3 separate regions of the Homo sapiens genome follow, and all the other regions are linked to region 1. The links come from fine-mapping of genetic effects on gene expression. A gene starts in region 1. Each other region holds a variant in brackets. All regions are shown on one strand. Distances are between the middles of the regions. Region 1 holds the start of COL5A3 (collagen type V alpha 3 chain). Region 2 has its middle 9.1 kb from the start of OLFM2. Region 3 overlaps COL5A3 (collagen type V alpha 3 chain).

Region 1 (2,752 bases):
CTCAGAATACGCCTCTTGGTTCCTCCCCTCCCTGGGGAAACACCCTCACATCCTGCGTGTCTGCGCTTGTCCAATTGCATAAAAGCTCTATTTGACCTCATGGGGGCCTCTTCATGCTGGAGGTGGGGGTCCCAGCACGGTGAGGGGGGCCTCTGCCTCATCCCAAGAATGGCAAGAATCCACCCCTTCCTCCCCAGTGGCTGTGCGTTGCTTTGCGACAGGGACAGATTCCCACCACCTCCCACCAACGCGCCGGCCTTTTTTTTTGAGACAGACAGAGTCTTGCTCTGTTGTCCAGGCTGGATCGCAGTGGCACAACCTCAGCTCACTGCAACCTCCACCTCCCGTGTTCAAGTGATCCTCCCACCTCAGCCTCCCAAGTAGCTGGGACTACAGGCGCCAGTCACAATGCCTGGCTAATTTTTGTATTTTTAGTAGAGATGGGGTTTCGCCATGTTGGCCAGCTGATCTCTAACTCCTGGACTCAAGCGATCTGCCCGCCCCAGCCTCTCAAAATGCTGGGATTACAGGCATGAGCCACCGCACCCAGCTCAGACTCCCTCATTTGGTGGGGATTTGGGATTGAGGCCGGGGCATCCACTGGAGACCTGAGTTGGGGCGGGGGGAGATGAGGGTTAGGGATGGAGATGAGACCCTTTATTTGAGGAATCAAGAATTTGGGGAAAGTGAAAACTGTGTTTTGGGATCTGTGGTGAGAATTTGGGACCAGGACACGTGACTTAGGGATTTGAGTGGACAGATGAAGGTTTGGAGTAAGGCTGGGGACCCCATTTTGGGATCTGGGGTGAGATTTGAGGTGGGATGAGGACCCGTTAGGGACTTGAAGGAAAGGCTTTGGGGCTGAGGCTGGTACCTCCTATTGTGCAGCTGAGGGACTGAGGATAAAGCAGGTAGGTGAGTGAGAGTTCGGGGTGAGGTTGGGACCCCAGTTGGGGGCCTGAGTGAGGCAGAAAGGACTTGGTGCCAGGGGCGGTGGCTCATGCCTGTAACTCCAGCGCTTTGGGAGGGCAAGGCCGGAGGATCGCTTGAGACCAGAAGTTCAAGACCGGCCTGGGCAGCATAGCAAGATCCCGGTCTCTACAAAATATACATATTTTAAAATTAGCTGGGTGTGGCAGTGTGTGCCTGTGGTACCTGCTTCTCAGGAGGCTGAGGCAGGTGGATGGCTTGAACGCAGGAGTTGGAGGCTGCAGTGAGCTATGATTGCACCACTGCACTCCAGCTTGGGTGACAGATCAAGACCCTGTCTCCAAAATAAAATGTAAAAATAATAGAAAATAAAAAAGATTTGGTATAAAGCTGCACCTCCTCCTAATTCTAGGGCCTGGATGGAGGCTGAAGTCTTGAATGAGGTTAAGGTCTCCTTTGAGGGGATCTGCTAGGCGGAAAAGGTTTGGGGTAAGACTGGAACCCTCGAACTCTAGGGCTGGGTGGGAGTGACCCTTCTCCTCCACAGTGGGGTGGGGCAGGAACAACCCAGCTCCTGGCGCTGGGCTCCACCCCAGCCAGCCAATCAGCCCTCAGCACAAAGTTTCCCAACTTCCCAGTCCAGCTGTCAGCGCTCCCCCTCCAAAAAGCCCCGCCTGGCCAGGCGCTGGAGCGCAGGGCGAGGCCAGGGCGGGGTCTCGGGCAGTTTCCCGCGGACCCTGAGAGGAGCGGCCGCCGCGAGTGACTGCACCGAGCCCGAGAAGTCGCCGCGCCCCGCAGCCGCCCCGACTGGTTCCCCGCCTTGCCCGTGGGCCCCGCCGGGATGGGGAACCGCCGGGACCTGGGCCAGCCGCGGGCCGGTCTCTGCCTGCTCCTGGCCGCGCTGCAGCTTCTGCCGGGGACGCAGGCCGGTGAGCCGGGAGGGAAGAGATGGGACCCAGGGTCCACGACTCAGAGAGGCTCTAAAAGAGCGAGGGGTGGAGGGGGGTGGAGGGGCGTGGAGGGGAAGGGCGTGGGCGCCGCGTGCGGCCCCGGTGTGATGTGGGCGCATGAGTATCTGACTCTGGGTGATTTGTGGGTGTGACAGCTCGGGGTGGGGGTGGGGATGTGTGAGTGCGTTTTCTGGCGAGCGCGTGGGAATGCATGCAATGTGCAGGTGTGTGCATGTGTGTATGTGTGTGTAGCATGTGTGTGCATTTGGAGTGAAGTTGCGTATGTGCTTGCGTGTGGAGGTTGATGGTGATAGTGTGACTGTGAGTGACAGGGCAGTGCTGGGACGGTGTGTATTGCGACAGGTGAGTATGCACTTGTGCTCTTGTCTATGTGCTGATTTTCGAGGGTAACCGTGTGAGTGGTTATGCGTGTGATTGTGTGTCTCTGAGTGCCGCTATGAGGGGTGTAGTTATGATTTTTGGGTGCAAATAATTGCCCATGAGGATGAAGGTGGGTGGGGACAAGTATTGGGGGGTGCTCTTCGGGAACCCACAGTTTCCTTTGCGTCTCTTTAAATGGCTTCACCTCATTCTCCCTTTTCCTCCTCTGCCCCAAATTGGCGAGCGCCCATCTCCTCCCCTCCCTCCCTGTTGCCCCCTCCCCCACCCCGCGGTCCCCAGAGCCGCGATCAGCACCATGGACAGGGCTTCGGGGAGGGCCGCGGTGAGGGGCGAGACGGGGCGGGGCGCAGGGCGGGGCAGGAGTGGAAGTTGCTCCCCCCCTCCCCACCCCAGCTGCTGGAGCCTTGGGTGTTTTTCCCGAGGAATTTCTCAGGAGCCCCCAAGGGGTCCCGGGGGCCGCCGGATGGGTG
Region 2 (2,752 bases), 65 kb after region 1:
GTATTTTTAGTAAAGACAGGGTTTCATCATATTGGTCAGGCTGGTCTCAAATTCCTGGCCTCAAGTGATCCATCTGCCTTGGCCTCCCAAAGTGCTGGGATTACTTGCAAGAGCCACCGCGCCTGGCCAGAGCTGGCTGTTTCAGAGCCACAAATCCAGTGCAGCCTGGTCCAGGTGTCAGTTCTTGATCTCTGCTTGTAGCTTAAATGGAGGGGTCCTGGCCTCTACTACAAGGTGGGGAGAGGAGGCTGCACAGAGACAAGGGCTTGAATCCTAGCTCCTCTACCTCCTTGCTGTGTGACCTCAGGCAAGTTGCTTCACCTTTCTGAATGTCACTTTCCTCCCCTACGAAACCCTCCAAGGAGGATTGCCTGAGGCCAGGATGTCGAGGCTGCAGTGAGCCATGATTGCACCACTGTACTCCAGCCTGGGCGACAGAGCAAGACCCTGTCTCAAAAAAAAAAAAAAAAGAAAAAAGTCCAGGCCGGGTGGCTCATGCCTGTAATCCCAACCCTTTGGGAGACCAAGGCGAGTTGATCACTTGAGCCCAGGAGTTCAAGACCAGAACAGCCTGGGCAACATGGTGAAACCCCATCTCTATAAAAAATACAATTAGCTGGGCATGGTGGCGGTGTGCACCTGTAGTACCAGCTACCTGGGAGGCTGAGGTAGGAGGATCACCTGAGCCTGGGGAGGTCGAGGCTACAATGAGCTGTGATTGTGCTACCACACTCCAGCCTGGGTGACAGAGTGAGGCCCTGTCTCAAAAAAAGAAAGAAAGGGGCCCAGCTTGGTGGCTCATGCCTGTAATTCCAGCACTTTGGGAGGCCGAGGCAGGCGTATCACCTGAGGTCAGGAGTTGAAGACCAGCCTGACCAACATGGTGAAACCCTGTCTCTACTAAAAATACAAAAATTAGCCAGGCATGTGGCAGGAGCCTGTAATCCCAGCTACTCGGGTAGCTGAGGCAGGAGAATCGCTTGAACCTGGGAGGTGGAGGTTCCAGTGAGCTGAGATCGCGCCATTGCACTGCAGCCTGGGCAACAAGAGCGAAACTCTGTCTCAGAAAAAAAAAAAAAAGAAAGAAAGAAAGAAGAAAAAATAAAAAGAAATCTTCTCCAGGACTATCGCAGGGGTTGAAATGAGCCCCCTGCTGGGCCTGGCTTGGGGCAGACCACTCTGCCTTAGAACGGCTGTGGTTCTGAGCCAAGTTCCGGCCGCATGGCCTTAGATCAGGGCCCTGCTCCTTCCTGCTTTGGTAAGGCTGGGAAGCGTTCCTGGGTCTCCTTGTCCCGCCAGCTCATGCCTCAATTCCCAGGCCCCTAATAGGAACCACATGCGCTGGATGCCTGCCCTCCTCCCCCTTCCCTCCTCCTCCCCCAGAGAGGCCTCCT[G/A]AGTCATCCTCTCCACCTCACTCCCTCCTTGCAGCCTCATTCCCACGCTGCCCTGGCCTGGCGTCCTCGTGTCAGAGGGCTGTGTCGTGGGTCCCCGCGGGTCTGTTTGTGTGTGAACTCTGCCTCTACTGTGCCTTTGTGGGCGTGACTCCGTGTCTGAGTTATGGATCAGACACTGTGAGCGTGCTCTGTACAAATTCCATGCTTCTGTTTGCGTGTCTGTGCAAGAGTGTGTTGGCATGTGAACTGTCTGCCTGTTTTATGTGATTGTATTGTGAGTGTTTGAGTAAACGGATGTATAAATATGTCTATGCTGGAGACCTGTGTGTGAGCTGTGTGTCTGAATTGTGGGTTTTGTGGAGTTGTGTGTGTGTCTATTTTCTTTCTCTCTCTCTCTTTCCTTCCTTCCTTCCTTCCTTCCTTCCCTCCCTCCCTCCCTTCCTTCCTTCCTTCTTTCCTTCCTCCCTTCCTTCCTCTTTTTCTGCTGCTTTCTTTCCTTCCTTCCTTCCTTCTTGCTTTCTTCTTTCTTTCTTTCTTTCTTTCTTTCTTTCTTTCTTTCTTTCTTTCTTTCTTTCTCTCTCTCTCTCTCTCTCTTTCTTTCTTTCCCTCTCTCTTTCTCTCTTTCGTCTTATTCTGTCACCCAGGCTGGAGTGCAGTGATCTCAGCTTACTGCAACCTCCATCTCTCGGTTTCAAGCAATTCTCCTGCCTCAGCCTCCCGAGTAGCTGGGATTACAGGCATGCGCCACCATGCCAGGCTAATTTTTGTATTTTTAGTAGAGACGGGGTTTCATCATGTTGGCCCGGCTAGTCTCAAACTTCTGACCTCAAGTAATCCACCCACCGTGGCCTCCCAAAGTGCTGGGATTGCAGTTGTGAACCACAGTGCCTGGCCCCTTTCTTTCTTTCTTTTTTGAGACAAGGTCTCACTCTGTTGCCCAGGCTGGAGTCCAGTGGTGCAATCAGCTCACTGAAGCCTCAATCTCTCAGGCTCAAGCAATTCTCCTGCTTCAGCTTCCAGAGTAGGTGAGACTACAGGCACAAGGCACCATGCTCAGATAATTTTTTATTTTTAGTAGAGATGGGCTCTCATTAATTAAAAGAATTACCTGGGTGAGGTTGGGCATAGTGGCTCATGCCTGTAATCCCAGCACTTTGGGAGGCCAAGGTGGGTGGATCACGAGGTCAGGAGATCGAGACCATCCTGGCTAACATGGTGAAACCCTGTCTCTACTAAAAATACAAAAAAATTAGCTGGGCGTGGTGGCAGGTGCCGGTAGTCCCAGCTACTCGGGAGGCTGAGGCAGGAGAATGGTGTGAACCCAGGAGGCAGAGCTTGCAGTGAACCGAGATCGCGCC
Region 3 (2,752 bases), 50 kb after region 1:
TCACGCCTGTAATCCCAGCACTTTGGGAGGCCAAGGTGGGCGGATCACGAGGTCAGGAGATCGAGACCATCCTGGCTAACATGGTGAAACCCCGTCTCTACTAAAAATACAAAAAATTAGCCGGGCGTGGTGGCAGGCGCCCGTAGTCCCAGTTACTTGGGAGGCTGAGGCAGGAGAAAGGCGTGAACCCGGGAGGCGGAGCTTGCAGTGAGCTGAGACCATGCCACTGCACTCCAGCCTGGGCGACAGAGCAAGACTCCGTCTCAAAAAAAAAAAAAAAAATTAAATGAAGTTAAAAAAAAAAAAAGTCCCAGCCAGGCATGGTGGTGTGCACCTATAGTCCCAGCTACTTGGGAGGCTGAGATGGGAGGATGACTTGAGCTCAGGAGATGGAGGCTGGAATGAGCCAGGATTGTGCCAGTGCACCCCAACTTGCGCGAAAGAGCAAGATCCCAACCCTTACCCCCCAAAAAAGGAAAAAAAATTAAATAAAGTAAAAAAAAATCCCTCCTTCAAATCAGCCACATTTCAAGTGCTCAAAAGCCACGTGGCTATTAGACATGTGGCTGCCATATTGGACAGGGCAGAAATCTGGTATCAGGGACAGTGAGCTCTGTAGATCCAGCGACTCACAAGAGTGGAGGCAGAGTTGTGTCTTCTGGGTGGGGATGAGTGTGTTAAAACCCTGGATTGGTGGATGAAGCAATCAGAATTTGGGAGGTCAGATGGAGTGGGCATGGAGGCCTACTGGATGGAGAGGTGGACAGAGTGGATGTTCAGGTGACTCTTGGGATTCTGCCAGGGATCTCTAGGTGGCTGGTGGGACCTCCTCAGAGATGGTGACATGGGGGGGGTGGCTTGTCTGCCAGTGGATGGAGATTCCAGGGGGTGGCTTCTGCAGAAAGAGGCTCATGGAGCCCCTCATCCTCTGCCTTGCCCTCCTCTCACCAGTTCTCCTACGTGGACGCCGACGGGTCCCCAGTGAATGTCGTGCAGCTGAACTTCCTGAAACTGCTGAGTGCCACAGCTCGCCAGAACTTCACCTACTCCTGCCAGAATGCAGCTGCCTGGCTGGACGAAGCCACGGGTGACTACAGCCACTCCGCCCGCTTCCTTGGCACCAATGGAGAGGAGCTGTCTTTCAACCAGACGACAGCAGCCACTGTCAGCGTCCCCCAGGATGGCTGCCGGGTAAGAGGGTGGGGCAGTGGCCAGCTAGAGAGGGGAGGCAAGATGTCGGCCACCTTCCCGGTAACTCACCGTCTCTGTCTTCTCTGGGGACAGCTCCGGAAAGGACAGACGAAGACCCTTTTCGAATTCAGCTCTTCTCGAGCGGGATTTCTGCCCCTGTGGGATGTGGCGGCCACTGACTTTGGCCAGACGAACCAAAAGTTTGGGTTTGAACTGGGCCCCGTCTGCTTCAGCAGCTGAGAGTGTCCGGGGTGGGAGGGACCATGAGGGAGCCCCAGAATGGGGTGCATTTGGTGCTGAGGCTTTGAAGCCACCGTATTTTTCGTTACCTGTGACTATGGAGCCAATGGGATGTGACTTCGCTCATCACGG[A/T]CAGTCATTCCTTCTCCTTTCCAGGGTGCTGGGGGCTGGGGTTCCCTGGCCCAAGGGTCCAGCCTCCTCTCACCCCATTCCAGGTGGCATACTGCAGTCTGGCTCTTTCTCCCCTCCCTCCCCACCCAAGCCTCACCTCCCCACCCCTTGAACCCCCATGCAATGAGCTTCTAACTCAGAGCTGATGAACAAAAGCCCCCCCACCCCCAATGCCTGCCTCCTCACTCCTCCGTCGCTGCCCTTCACACCTTTTGGTGCTACCCCTCCCCAGAGTTAAGCACTGGATGTCTCCTGATCCCAGGCTGGGACCCCTACCCCCACCCCCTTTGATCCTTTCTACTTCCACGGTGAAAGGACTGAGGTCGGACTACAGAGGGAAGAGGGACTTCCCTTGACTGGGTTGTGTTTCTTTTCCTGCCTCAGCCCAGCTCTGCAAATCCCCTCCCCCTGCCCCCCACCTCCCCAGGCTCACCTTGCCATGCCAGGTGGTTTGGGGACCAAGATGTTGGGGGGGTGAATCAGGATCCTAATGGTGCTGCCCTATTTATACCTGGGTCTGTATTAAAAGGGAAAGTCCCCCCTGTTGTAGATTTCATCTGCTTCCTCCTTAGGGAAGGCTGGGATATGATGAGAGATTCCAGCCCAAGCCTGGCCCCCCACCGCCAGGCCATAGGGCATAATTTGCATCTCAAATCTGAGAATAAACTGATGAACTGTGTTTCTGTCTCTGTGTATTTCTTTTTTAAATTTTTTTGTTTGTTTGTTTGTTTTATTTATTTATCCTTGAGACGCAGTCTTGCTCTGTCGCCCAGGCTGGAGTGCAGTGGTGCAAGCTTGGCTCACTGCAACCTCCGCCTCCCGGGTTCAAACAATTCTCCTGCCTCAGCCTCCCTAGAAGCTGGGGTTGCAGATATGCACCACCACACCCGGCTAATTTTTATAATTTTAGTAGAGATGGGATTTCACCTTGTTGGCCAGGCTGGTCTTGAACTCCTGACTTCAGGTGATCCGCCCGCCTTGATCTCCCAAAGTGCTGGGATTACAGATGTGAGCCACCACGCTCAGCCCTTGTTTGCTCGTTTTTAGAGACTGGGTCTCACTCTGTCGCCCAGTCTGGAGTGCAAGGGCATGATCATGGCTCACTGCAGCCTCCAACTCTGGGACTCGAGTGATCCTCCTTCTTCAGCCT

What was found. PIP is the estimated chance that this variant, and not a neighbour inherited with it, causes the effect.
Region 2: its variant is fine-mapped to the expression of COL5A3 in fibroblasts (GTEx, PIP 0.99).
Region 3: its variant is fine-mapped to the expression of COL5A3 in iPS cells (HipSci, PIP 0.92).

The regions. Positions count from the first base shown.
Region 1 is chr19:10,009,405-10,012,156 of GRCh38, reverse strand. It overlaps COL5A3 (collagen type V alpha 3 chain), which reads left to right and starts at 1,653. Exons shown (of 67, transcript NM_015719.4): 1 at 1,653-1,859. The coding sequence starts at 1,772.
Region 2 is chr19:9,944,287-9,947,038 of GRCh38, reverse strand. No RefSeq gene overlaps it. Among named protein-coding and RNA genes, the nearest start is that of OLFM2, 9.1 kb to the right of the region's middle. The variant G/A (reference allele first, on the strand shown) is at 1,395.
Region 3 is chr19:9,959,090-9,961,841 of GRCh38, reverse strand. COL5A3 (collagen type V alpha 3 chain) reads left to right here. Exons shown (of 67, transcript NM_015719.4): 66 at 952-1,191; 67 at 1,285-2,281. The coding sequence ends at 1,431. Among named protein-coding and RNA genes, the nearest start is that of OLFM2, 24 kb to the right of the region's middle. The variant A/T (reference allele first, on the strand shown) is at 1,564.